Homo sapiens: one gene and its partner. The protein of the gene in region 2 interacts with the protein of the main gene of each other region in a pairwise test. Each region holds a gene or a part of one and is shown on either strand. Other genes may lie near its edges.

Region 1 (7,028 bases), on a different chromosome or scaffold from region 2:
GCTTTTGTTTCTGCAGGACAAAATGGGGTAGGAATTGACTGCAGGATTTAATGTGATTGGGGTTCTAACCTATTATTAGCGCTAAATAGCTGCGTGAACCGAAGCAGCTTATTTGACATTTTTTTCTTAGACTTTTTTAAAAAAAGTACTTGTCTCATAAAATGTAAATATCAAATAAGAATGAATCTAGAACTAGATTTATCCACTTTTTTGACTATATGTTCTCTTTTTTCTTTTCCCTGGAAGTAAAAAAAAAAAAAAAAAGAAAAACAAGGGTTAATTCAAAATTCAGCTACACTGGATGTTTGGCTCAGCTCTGGGTTTTACTTTTGAGTTAAACTGGACCCATCCTTTTTTTCCCCTTGGTGATTTGTTCTTCATAAACACTTTCTATAGTACAATTCAGAAAAAAATAGAGGCACACGGCTATTACTTCTACCATAATCTGCTGTTGAGGAGACATTCAGTGTGAGGATGGGGTCTGGAGGTGGGGGACGTGTTTGGTTAACAGGATAACGGCCTCTGTGATGAACTGTGCAAAAATCCCATCAGTCAACATCTGATTGCAGCCAGATGGTCAAGGCTCATGGTGGAAGAGTTGTAGTGAGCCAAATACTCCTTTAGTTCCCCACAGCCCTAGGGTAGGCCCTAATTGGGCCCATTCTTTCTTCACTGAGATCTATATAAGTGGGTACTAAAAATGGAACTGACAATGTAGTATAACTGCTATGATGGCTTCTTTATTTTTATAAACTTTTTTTTTTTTTTTTTTTTTTAGCAATCATCAAGGTGCTACCCCTTTAGTTCTGGCAAAGCGCAGAGGAGTAAATAAAGATGTCATCCGATTGCTGGAATCTTTGGAAGAACAGGAGGTGAAAGGATTTAACAGAGGAACCCACTCGAAACTGGAGACCATGCAAACAGCTGAGAGTGAAAGGTACTGGAGATACAACTTTTTTTTTCTCACTGTATTACTCATTCCTTGAACTCCTGGGCTCAAGCATTCTTCCTGCCTCAGCCTCCTGACTAGCTGGGACTATAGGCACATGTAGCCACACCCAGCAAGATAATACGATTTTTTAAGGGGAAAGTCACTTTAAGTATGTGGATTTATGGTTAACTTTGTGAACTTTAATATTCATTTGCTTTTAAGTGCAACTTGAACTTTATATAGGACCTTATGACTGCAGATTACAATTGAGAAGCTATTAACAGAAAGTACTACATGTCATGTGCGCATAATGTTCTGTTAGCCACCTGCTGTATTGACAGTACAAAGGAGAAATAGTAACAAATGAATCTGAGGGGAGGAAGCCGGAGCTTGATGATTTTAAGTACAGGTCACAAAAAGAATGGAATTTCAAAAAAAAGAGAAGTATAAGTAAAGCCAAGAACTTGGGCAATTTTAGAAAAGACTGAAAGGTAGTTTCAAGGGTAGGGAAGTGGAATGCTGAGAAACAAGAAAACAAGAGAGGGAAAGCAAGATAGTATTTAACACATGCACAGTTCAGTAATGTGAAAGTGAAAGTGACTTTCATATGAGTTGGAGCTAATGAAATTTGGATTCCTGTGAGTAATCGAAGCTAAGATGTGGTAACTGACAGGGTCTTGAATAGCTCATCATTTCTCATCTAGAAGCAATGGAGAATGCAGTTCAGAGAGCTCCAAAAAGGTGGCGCACCATCTTTTCTCCTGATGTCACTGGGCTCAACAGGTAAAGTTAATAGGCCAGACTTAGTTCTAGTAGCATATTATCTGGTTGACCACCATGCAGTTTCAGCCTTCCACATTATACGTGTGAAGGAAAAAGGATGCTGAGCTTCCATAGCCTCTTCCCAGTATTCTCGGTAGGTTGTAAATAGAATAAGCAAGGGCCCACATCAGCTGTTTACCTAGTAGCTGATGGACTAGGACTTGGATTTAGAATCACATAATCCACTTAGACCATTGGGATCATTGTTTCTGTGAGTTCTAAATGAAATCCTCTCTGTTTTTCATAGCTTACCCTTCATTTGATTCCTTTGTACCCATTTTTGCTTTCCTCCTCTCGTGTGCCAGATGATGTGCTCTTTGGGGACCATTAATTCCACTCTCAAGCTTAGGTCTATTTTGTTCAGATACTTTCAAGCACTTTAATACAGTCCTAAAGAAATCCAAGAGCTTTACTTCTGGAACAGTGCATACTCCTCTTGAGTGATCACTGAAAGCTGACAAATAGATAATCAAGAAGTCAGAGATGTATTTGCAAGCCCTTGTTTTTCTCTCCTCTGTACTTTGGATTGACAGAATGGCATAAGCACTTTAACAATATTGAGTTAACTATTATTTGTTAAAGATTTTTTCCTCTAAGATAACTTGAAATTTATTTTTATCTTTTTATGAAATAACATTAAGTACTTTAAGCTTCTTTACCATGAAAAACAACCAAGAATGTGTTCTTGTTTGGTATATTTTTAGGATCTTTATTTTGTTAATAGCCAGTTTCTTGGCACCCTTTTATTAGAAATATACTTTTAGCATTAGTTTGCCTCAGTTGTGATTACTTACTAAGAAGTGATAAGTACAAAATAATATTCCATTGGATGAGCAGTGGAAGTACTCCTGCTTCCTTCACATACCTGCCATTTCACTGCAGCATGAGAGTTTGTATTAATTGTAACACTGTATAAAGCTCGTTTTTCAAAAATTGAGTTATTAACACTTTTATTACCTAGTTTTCCTATCTTACTCCTACCCCTCAGTGTCATGGTAGAAATTCAGTGGTTGAAGCTTAAATCAGAAAGTTGAAAGGTAATGTCATTAGGAAAATGCAAATGAGGACCATAGTGAAATGCCACTTCACACCCACTAGGATAGCTGCAATTAAAAAGATAGATAATAACAAGTGCTCTGGAGGATGTGGAGAAATTGGAACCCTCATACACTGCTGATGGGAATGGAAAGTAGAGCAGCTTCTTTGGAAAAGTCTGGCAGTCCTTCAAAAAGCTACACGTAGAGTTACCATCTGACCAGCAGTGCCACTTCTAGGAATATACCAAAGAAAATTGAAACATATGTCCACACAAAACTTATATATGAATGTTCATAGCAGCATTATTCATAATAGCCAAAACATTGATACCACCCAGATATCCATCAGCTGATGAAGGAATAAACATCATCTGTTCATCCAATGGAATATTACTAATATTATTATATTATACTGATACATGCTACAGCATGGATAAATTTTGAAAACATGCTACATTGGAGAAGCCAGGCACAAAAGGCCACATATTACATGATTCTGTTTATGTGAAATGTCCAGAATAAGCAAATCCATAGAGACAGAAAGTAGATGAGAAAGTAGACTAGAAGCTGGGAGAAGGGGCAATGGGAGTGACTGCTAATAGGTACAGAGTTTCTTATAGAGGTGCTGAAAGTGTACTGGAATTAGAAGAGATGGTTGTACAATTTGGGGAATATATGAAAAGCCACTGAATTGTACAGTTTCAAAAGGTAAATATTATGGGATGTGAATTATGTCTCAATAAATGTAGATGAAAAAGTTTAAAGAGATTGGCTAGCACATGGCATTATGGCATAATTGTGTAATGGCTTTTTCTAGAGCAGAAGATAAAGCAGGGTTTTAAATGTATTTACTATAATATTTTCCATTTCTCTTAGGATTCCCCCAAGACAGCACAACTTCTGCAGGCCTTATAAGGGACTATAAATCAAGTTAATGAAAAATATTTCCCCACTCCTCCATATAACTCTAAGTTTAATTCCTTTTTACTTTGTAGGTATGGGATAACAAAAACAGTATAGCTATCACATTTTTTAAAAAAGATACATGCAAACACACCCCCCAAAGACAGTGTAGATATCACGTTTTTAAAAAAAGATTATACACACACCCCATTATGTTAGAATCAGATATTCCCTGGACAGTAGAAAGCATTTCATTGGATAAAGTCTTTATAGAATATCCCGATTGGCAGAGCTTCATGAGCTCTGAAGAACAATGAGAATGCTCATGGAATTTTCATTTTATACCTAACATGTATAAGGGCATGTCAACTCGTAATCAATAAATTTTACATAGGTCAAACTAAGCCTCTGCAGAACTGTGTTATCTATTTGTGGTTTTACTCTTTTAGGCCTTCTCAAAGTTCTAATCTTATTTTTAAACTTGCTGTCAAGTGTTCCAAAATTACTGTGGTGTTGTAGATTCCCACTGAAAACATCATCTCTTATTCAGAGAATAAACATGTTTTAATTATTAAAAAAAAAAAAGTTTGGGTGTTAAGCAGACTGGCCCATTAGGAAGTCAGTTTCCCATGATCAGAGAAGACCTCTAATGTTGGTAAAGGCTGAAGGACTTTTGTTTGATGGTATCAAGAAGTAAAATAAAGTTGTAGGTTAAAAAATGTCAGTTTTGCATGTTTATTCATAGTTCATAATGAATGAGACTCTAAGATACTGTTTTATGGGAGTTAGGAAGGATAGTAATGAACTTTGATAACCAGTAGATAGTTGATTCCTATGATCATGGTTATGGTGGCTTTAATCTAAATGATACCCTCTTATTGGGCCTGTATGTTGTGATATAACCATGAGTGCTCTTCCCTTAGTGCTTCCAAGTACCAAAGTCAGATGCAGTTTCTCTTTGTGGTAGTCGTATTTCTCATTGATAAAGTTCTGAAAACCAGAATCAGTGTTTTTATGGTATTTGCACTACCTTATTTTCAACTAGACTAGCCTTTATGCAGAAGAGAAATGAACATATTCTGTCTTACTGTACAAGATAGAACTAACACCAATAGGAAGAAACTATTAAGAATTCCTAATGACTAGGCCAGCTGTGGTGGCTCATGCCTGTAATCCCAGCACTTTGGGAGGTCAAGGCAGGTGGATCACCTAAACTCAGGAGTTCAAGACCAGCCTGGGCAACATGGCGAAACCCTGTCTCTACCAAAAATACAAAAATTAGCCAGCCATGGTGGCATGCACCTGTAGTCCCAGCTACCTGGGGGGCTGAGGCAGGAGGATTGCTTGAGCTGGGGAGGTGGAGGTTTCAGTGAGCTGAGATCGCATCACTGTATTCCAGCCTGGGCGGCAGAGTGAGATTCTGTCTCCAAAAAAAAAAAAGAATTTCTGATGACTAGACGAGTCCACATGTACAACAGGCTGAGGAGTAACCTTCCATTATTAGAGAATTACAATTAAAGAAGGAATTCCTTCATTGGTCAGATTATTGAACTAAATTAATAAAAATTCCCTTTTAACTTCAAGATTCACACACACTGTATAAGTGACTTTTTAGATTTACTCATCTTCCCCCCTCCCCCCAACAGACATTTACTTTCTCAGTTCTAGGGCCTAGAAGTCTGAGATCAAGGTGTCACAAAGTTGGTTTCTTCTAAGGCCTCTCTGCTTGACTTGTAGATGACTGTCCTCTTCAGGTGTCATCACCTGCATGTCTGCTTATTCGTATTAACACATTCTTAAATTATGAGTCTGCACTTTGAATCTTCTAAATTTAACATAACAAGAATGTGTTGTGGTTTAATATCTTGATGGAGACAACTCATAACCTATTTCAAGACTTCTGCTCAGGACACCTTAAAAAAAAATAGAGATGGTGTCTCGCTATGTTACCCAGGCTGGTCCCGAACTCCTGGGCTCAAGTGATCCTCCCTCCTTGGCCTGCAAAAGTGTCGGGATTACAGGCATGAGCTACCACGCCCAGCCAGGACCTTTTAAATAGAATTTTTAACTTGAGTTTACTAAATTCTAAACCAAGAGAAACATACTCATTACCATTTAGCAATTTACAGTTTAGTATATATTGTTCAGATACGTAAGCATGTAAGAGTGTGTATATATATATATGTGTGTGTGTGTGTGTGTGTGTGTGTGTGTGTGTGTGTGTATTTGGTCTTTTCTAAATAGTAGCCCTGTGGTTTTATGTTTTTGGAATTGCTGTGTTTTTTTAATGCCCTTTTTGCTCTTTCTTCTTCCACAGTGCCATGGAAAGCCATTCACTCCTCAATCCCAACCTGCAGCAAGGTGAAGGAGTCCTCTCCAGCTTCCGAACCACGTGGCAGGAGTTTGTGGAGGATCTGGGCTTCTGGAGAGTATTGCTGTTGATCTTCGTCATTGCTTTGCTGTCTCTTGGCATTGCTTATTATGTGAGTGGGGTGCTACCCTTCGTGGAAAACCAGCCTGAACTGGTGCATTAAAGGAGCTCATGGAAGATGAGGCAATTAATTGCCTGTTTCCTGGCTTCCAATGTTTGTTCTCAGTTTCTCAGAATTTTTCTTAGCGCAAAGCAGTGAGGGCAGTACATGTTCTTTTTGCATTTTTAATTATTGTAATCCTTTTAGATAATGATGTGTTCATTTGAACTAACTACATACTATGATCAAGTATATTGCATCCTAACGCTACCTCTGACTCAACCTGACTTTGTAGGAAAGCCTACACGTAGCCTTGTTTGATAAAAACACGGAAGTGACTAGAGAATGGAAGATAAAGGAAGAAGCTAGGAAGTCCTTGCTATCAAAACCTTATCCTAATATAGGACCAATTGAAGTATTCAAAAAGAAAAACAGTATCTTATATGATTAGTTTTTGTTGGTGGTTTTGTTTTCATTTATTTTTGCAAGAGCCACTTTTTATTTACTTTCTCTAGGGATAAGAGATAAAACTTGAAGTACTTTTTTCAAATCTTGTGTGCAAATTAGTATTGTTAGCATCTATTTGGCTTATTTTAGTATTTTTAAGTCTAGTCACAAACCAAACAAAACTTTTGAAAATGAGCTATATTTTGTTCAAAGATAATTGATTTGATCTTATATTTATTTGTTTTTAGGATAATTTTTGATCTTTTTGTAAACTGCTTTGCTTGTTAATATCTGTGAAAAATAAATGAGTTCATTTTGTTCACTTTCCAATTTTCCCGAGTATCCTAGTCATCAAAGATAACAGTTCATCAGAATTACAGTCAGAAAATCCTTTTTCTACTGAATAGTTAGCAGGGA
Region 2 (7,028 bases):
AAGTGTGGAACAGATCTGCCCAAGTCTGCCAGTCATCTTCACCAGTCTCCCCTACACATGAAGGAGTCTTTGAGGGCAGGGACTTCTACAGCCACCCACAAAGCCTACTGCAGGGTTGTGCACAGCACAGTATGCTGCTGACAGGCCAAGGGCAGAACCTGGCAATGGGTGTCACTGAGCCATAAATGGAAATTACACAACAAATCATGCGAGGTTTTGATATACAAAAGCCACAGGCATAAGTACTTAGTTCTTCCAGCCCCAAGCAAGCTGAGTACATGCCAACAGGAAGTAACTAAATTTACAAAACTATGCTCCAAGTGGGAAAAAAGTACTCTGGCATAAATAGAACCTAGCAGAGAAACCCCTAAGAGTTATGTTCTGCTGACAATACCCTGGCTCTAAAAATTCTCTCCTTAAACAGGGACAGGCAGTCCTTTATAGTTGGTAATACCAACAATATATGTTAGTGGACCCTCATCAATTTCTGACTTGGTAAGAAATGAACTTTGTATGTGGAGAGCCTGCTAAAGAAGGATATTTTCATGACACTAAACAGGTCATGAAAATATGCAAAGGTCATATCCTAGAGAATTGAAATATAACAGTCCTCTCCCCACACCTAGAGTTAGCCATAGTTGGAAAGCTATGAGCAGGGTATACTTTGTAGGGGAGGTATATGTCATACTTACGCATCAAGTAGGACAGCAGAAGCCCAGGGACGTAGCGGCCCAAGACAGCCAAAAAGGTCAGTATCCCACAGCTCAGCAAGCAGAACTGGGGAATCAAGAAAGAGTATTAAGTTTCTGTCACATGGCAGGGGACTGGGGTGGGTGTGAAGGGTTAGGGTAGAGATATGACAGAAAGACTCTGTAAGTCAAGCATGGACGTGCAGCCACTGTTGCATCCAAAGGTGATTCTGTTTGGGAAGAAAAGGAGCATGTCCCCTTCTATTCAAACTCCTTTTACATGGCTAACCCCATAGGGCTGCACCTTTCCTGCCAAGAAATTGGTTTGAATAGGACTTAGCCAAAAATTCTCTCTGAAAGCAATGTTGGTGGTGGTTTTTTAAGTCAACAGAAACACACACAAAACCCAAAAAAACACAACAACCTATCACATATTTAATATGACACAGAATGTACACAAGAAAGCTTTCTTTCCTATCTTGAAGCAAGAAAACGGCCTCATCTAAGTGGCAACCACACCAAATGAGCAGTCACCAAGCTCCTGTGTTAGTCCTAATGGCTGGTCAGAAGGCCTTTCCTATAGCTTCCTTTTGTCTCTATGAACATCATAGTCTTTACTTTCTTGAATGAAGACACATAGTAAAGGAGCTGTTTCAGTTTAGCATGAACTGAACTGAGAGGCCAGAGATGAAAGTGAAAAAGGGAAGAGTCTTACCTTGCCTGGGTTTTGCTTTTTGAAAAGCAAAACATTCCTTATGAAAATGGTCCCACTAACCCAGACTTCAGCTACATGGTGGCAGAGCTCGGGCACGCTGAGCAACCGAGGGTGCACAAAGCCCCAGCTATGGGAGAGAGAAGGGGGAGCTGTGAAAGGAGGGTGTTGAGGGTCCCCCCATCTTGCTGTGCAGGCAGCCAGTGCTTCCGGTTTTAAATGGGGTTTGGGGAGTGACTAGGCCCAGGTGCTTTGGAGGTGAAGCATGACTTTCTTCTTGGCTCACCAGGTTGAAATCTGAATTTAGGTACAAGGAGGACAAACTTGTTCTGACAACTCCACCCTATGAGCAAGCAGCCCAATCCACGTGTGTAAACCTGTCCCCAGCTCCAAGGCCCTTTGTGCTTAGAAACGTTTTCTTCCTTGCACTCAGACCATTCCAATTCCCTGTGATTGCAATCCAGGGATAAAAGTGAGCATAGTCTGACTGACACCACTGCTGCTAAGGGGGAGGAAATGGTGGATGTGCCCCTTAGAAAGAAAATAAATAAAGCAAAACCAAAATAAACCACAGCAGAGAAAATTCTTTGGATCAAACAAATGGAGTGGATGAACTGAGAAATGAAAGCAGGAGCTGTAAGACACAAGAGGAATCTTTGGCTTTGACTTGCTGATGCCAGGAACCAATGTGTTTTCTGACCGGGAACTTTAAATAGCCAGAGGTCACAGAAAACACTAAATGACCTGGTATAAAAGCCAGGAGACAAATGAAGTTAGCTGCCTTTAAGTTTTCTCACTGGGACTGAATAATGCAGCTGATTCCCTGGCATGTCAGGTTATGGGGCACTGTAATGCTTCTTTTTCAGAAACTTCTCTTGTAAAGATCAGAGGACACAGGCCATCTCAACATATTGCTGCCTGAACTTTAGGATGTGTTAAAATGATCATTTGGAACAGCCTAGGTTCTCAGTTTACACTGTGTGTCCAGAACATGGGGTTAACAACATGTAACCAGAATATTACAAGAGAATGAATCAGAGCAACAAAAAGGGATTTAATTAGTGTTCCATACCTCTCATTGTCTAATGCGTCGGGTCTTGGCACTACAATATTAAAACAAACACCAGCATTAGTTGGTAGGGAAAACTAAACATGAAAATGTTAGGCTGTTGGTCTGACAGCTCAAGTTTTAATAGGTTGGGGAAAAGAAAACAGTAATAGCCGATAAAAAAGGAGACACTGTGTTATACTGCCAGTTAGGGAGCTGCAGACAAGGGAATAATCACTTATGCCTACTCATTTTTCGAGGGGAAGGAAGGGAGGTCCAAATGGACTATTTGAGCCCCCTTCTAATGACCTCAGCTGAAAGCCAAGGTGTACAAGAAAAATGGTCCATCTCACCCCTTGAGTGTGTCTGGGATACCCATACACATCAATCTGTGCCAGGCTACACAAGGTACGTTGTAACAACTCCAACCCTAGAAATCCACCTGTTGTGTTTATTTTTTTTGAGACAGAGTCTTCTCGCTCTGTTGCCCAGCCTGGAGTGCAGTGGCACGATCTTGGCTCACTGCAAGCTCCGCCTCCCATTCTTCTGCCTCAGCCTCCTGAGTAGCTGGGACTACAGGCACCCACCACAATGCCCGGCTAATTTTTTTTTTTTTTGGAGACAGGGTCTTGCTCTGTAGCCCAGGCTGGAGTGCAGTGGCGTGATCTCAGCTCACTCAGCCTCCCGAGTAACTGGGATTACAGGCACACGCCACCATACCTGGCTAATTTTTGTGTTTTTAGTAGAGATGGGGTTTCACCATGTTGGCCAGGCTGCTCTCGAACTCCTCCACCTCCCAAAGTGCTGGCATCACAGGCGTGAGCTACCGTACCCAGCCGAAATCTGCCTGTTCTCTTTATTTTTTTGAGACAGAATCTCACTCTGTCACCCAGGCTGGAATGCAGTGGCACGATCTTGGCTCACTACAACCTCCACCTCTGGTGTTCAAGCAATTCTCCTGCCTCAGCCTCCCAAGTAGCTGGGATTATAGGCACCTGCCACCACGCCTGGCTATTTTTGTGTTTTTAGTAGAGACAGGTTTTTGCTATGTTGGCCAGGCTGGTCTTGAACTCCTGACTTCAGGTGATCCACCCACCATAGCCTCCCTAAAGTGCTGGAATTACAGGTGTGAGCCACCACACCCAGCCTGCCTGTTCTCTTTAAAAAGAGACCCAGAGCTAGGTGTAGTGATGCTCACTTATAGTTCTGCCTCCTTGGGGGGCTGAGGCAGGAGGATCACTTGAGCCCAGGAGTTCAAGTCCATCCTGGGAAACACAGTGAGACCCTGTCTCTAACCAAAAAAAAAAAAAAATGGGGAGACCCATTATCTACCTGAATGATGTATAAGTCTTTTGAGATTCACCAGCCATTAGATAGGCAGATGAACTACACGATTCCTTGAAGTCTCTATAAAATATGATGGGCATGTATTTAAAACCTGTATACTCTGGTTTGAATATCTTGCCAACACTTCAAAATTAACCTGCCTAAAATCTACATCAGTTTTCCTCTCTCACCCCTTCAAACCAACTTTCCTGTCTGCCTTTGCCTGCTAAGTGTAATGCCATTCTGCCACTCTCTTAGCTTTAACCCCCATCCACTTATGTCTTTTATTATACATATATAACAATTATTATTTTCTGAGACAGGTGTCGCCCTGTTGTCTTGGCTGGAGTACAGTGGTGCGATCACGGCTCACTGCAGCCTCAACCTCCAGGGCTCAAGGGATCTTCCCACTTCAGCCTCCCAAGTAGCTGGGGACCACAGGTGCACACCACCATGCCTGGGTAATTTTTTTATTTTTTGTAGAGACAAGGTTTCGCCACGTTGTCCAGGCCGGTCTCAAATTCCTTGGCTCAAGCAATTCTCCTGCCTTGGCCTCCCAAAGTGCTGAGATCACAGGCATGATCCACTGCACCTGGCCCCAACTATTTATGTCTTGATCTTCCTTATTCACAGCTCTCCAGGCCATCCATCATTTGTATTCACTGAGGCCTCTCTGACTACTTCTCACAAAGACACTGCCACAGTCTCCTAACAGGTCATCCTGTTCCACTTTTCCTCCTTCCATGTGGTCCTAAAAATGCTACTAAATTAATCTTTATTATCGGCTGGGCGTGGTGGCCCACGCAGGTAATCCCAGCACTTTGGAAGGCCAAGGCACGCGGATCACTTGAGGTCAGGAGTTCAAGACCAGCCTGGCCAACATGGCGAAACCCCATTTCTACTAAAAATACCAAAAAAATTAGCTGGGCGTAGTGGTGCACGCCTGTCGTCCCAGCTACTCAGGAGACTGAGGCAGGAGAATCATCTGAACCTGGGAGGTGGAGGTTGCAGCGAGCCAAGATCGCGCCACTGCACTCCAGCCTGAGCAACAAAGTGAGATTCTGTCTCAAAAAAAATTTTTTTTACTTAGCTGGGTGTGGTGGTATGCACCTGTAGTCCCAGCTAATTGGGAGACTGAGGTGGGAGGATCACTTAAGCCCAGGGATTTGAGGTTGCAGTGAGCTATGATCATGCCACTGTACTCCAAAACCTGGACAACACAGTGAGACCTAGTTTGTTAAAAAATAAGAATAGGGCTGGGCGCGGTGACTCACGTCTGTAATCCCAGTACTTTGGAAGGCTGAGGCGGGCAGATCATCTGAGGTTGGGAGTTCAAGACCAGCCTGACCAACATGGAGAAACCCCATCTATAGAAAAAATACAAAAATTAGCTGGACATGGTGGCAAGTGCCTATAGTCCCAGCTGCTCAGGTGGCTAAGGTGGGAGAATTGCTGGAGCCCGGAAGGTTGAGGCCACAGTGAGCCATGATTGCGCCACTGCACTCCAGCCTGGGTGACAGACCAAGACTCTGTCTGAAAAAAAAGAATGCGCCAGGTGCGGTGCCTCACGCCTGTAATCCCAGCACTTTGGGAGGCCTAGGCGGGTGGATCACCTGAGGTCAGAAGTTCGAGACCAGCCTGGCCAACATGGTAAAACCCCGTCTCTAACAAAAATACAAAAATTAGCCAGGCATGGTGGTGCGTGCCTGTAATCCCAGCTACTAGCAGGGCTGAAGCAGGAGGATCACTTGAACCTGGGAGGCGGAGGTTGCAGTGAGCCAAGATCATGCCACTGCAGTCCAGCCTGGCCAACAGAGTGAGACTCCGTCTCAAAAGAAAAGAAAAGAAAAGAAACCAACAAAAAACCTAATCCCAACATACTTTCAGTTTTATTTCCTAGCACTCCCTTTAATGAACCTTCATCCTGGCCATATGATCAATTCTCTGATGTCAGGAAATGCTTTGCAACTTCTGGTTCCTCAGACTAATCAAGCCACTGGACTCTCTAGAAACAGACTTTTTTCTCAATCTGTTCAAATCTTTTGCTTTGTTCCACTCTCAGGCTAGGGAAAAAATACATGCTAAGTATACTAATCACATACTGCACTGTGACATCTGTGGTGCTGGTCTATAATTGTCACTTAATTTTTCATTTGTTTATGTATGTATTAGCTTTTTAAAAAGACACCACATGTCATGGTACTTTCTTTTTTTTTTTTTTTGAGACTGAGTTTTGCTCTTGTCACCGAGGCTGGAGTGCAGTGGCACGATCTCGGCTCACTGCAACCTCCGCCTCCCAGGTTCAAGTGATTCTCCTGCCTCAGCCTCCTTAGTGGCTGAGATTACAGGTATGCATCACCATGCCCAGCTAATTTTTTGTATTTTTATTAGACGGGGTTTCATCATGTTGGCCAGGCTGGGCTCGAACTCCTGACCTCAGGTGATCCACCCGCCTCGGACTCCCAAAGTGCAGGGGTTACTAATAGGCGTTAGCCACTGCGCCCGGCCATCATGGTACTTTCTATAAGTCACAATTGCCTAGCCTAGTGTTTTGCAAATGAGCAATGTAAAAGGAATTCCTGAGAGGTACTGCCTCAATAAAGATGCAGTGTCCAATAACGATAATTTATTATTTTTCATTTGAGGACTACTTATTCCTCAGGCCATTATGTTGGCAAAAATAACTCAGGTGGTGAGTACAGATTTCCTGTGCTTAGTAACAATGGGAAGGGCAGAACCCAGCTCTAAGGAACCATAATTGGGGCACAAGCCCTTCAAGTGCCTCCTAAAGCAAATGATTCAGACTTCAAAAGACAGTCCCCAGCTCCATACACCTCCTCATAAACCCCTAATACTAAAGGTACAAATTATAGGAAAGGCCATCTTCAGTTCAGATTGTTCTAAATGCTACCAAACTCACCTTTTATTTCAGGCCAGATTTTGTTCTTCCATTGATCAATACACACAATGATCATCAAGCCAAATGCAAGTAAAAACACAAGACGAAGAGATGTCAGGGCAAAAAACCTACAGAGGAAGAAAAACAGAAGAAAGATCATTTACCTAGTTATCCTAATTTCAGAAAAGGCCACGTGTGTACGATGGGCTCTGTGGTAAACAGACTTGAGGTCTAGCTTTTTTTGTTCTGACACTTAACTAGTTATACACCTAGGGTAAATCATTTAAACCTTCTGGACCTTAACTACTCTACCTATGGGGCAGAGAAAATAATTTGCTGCTGTAAAGGCAGAGG

What was found. The genes of interacting proteins can lie anywhere in the genome.
Region 1: the proteins of RETREG3 (region 2) and ANKRD46 interact in binary tests that used the Homo sapiens proteins (3 or more experiments, as listed by UniProt).

The regions. Positions count from the first base shown.
Region 1 is NC_000008.11:100,521,754-100,528,781, reverse strand, and holds part of ANKRD46 (ankyrin repeat domain-containing protein 46), read left to right. Parts: intron 1-778; coding exon 779-937; intron 938-6,010; coding exon 6,011-6,227; 3' UTR 6,228-7,028.
Region 2 is NC_000017.11:42,585,361-42,592,388, forward strand, and holds part of RETREG3 (reticulophagy regulator 3), read right to left. Parts: intron 6,803-7,028; coding exon 6,696-6,802; intron 2,505-6,695; coding exon 2,474-2,504; intron 1,532-2,473; coding exon 1,405-1,531; intron 778-1,404; coding exon 693-777; intron 1-692. UniProt on the Homo sapiens protein: Endoplasmic reticulum (ER)-anchored autophagy regulator which exists in an inactive state under basal conditions but is activated following cellular stress.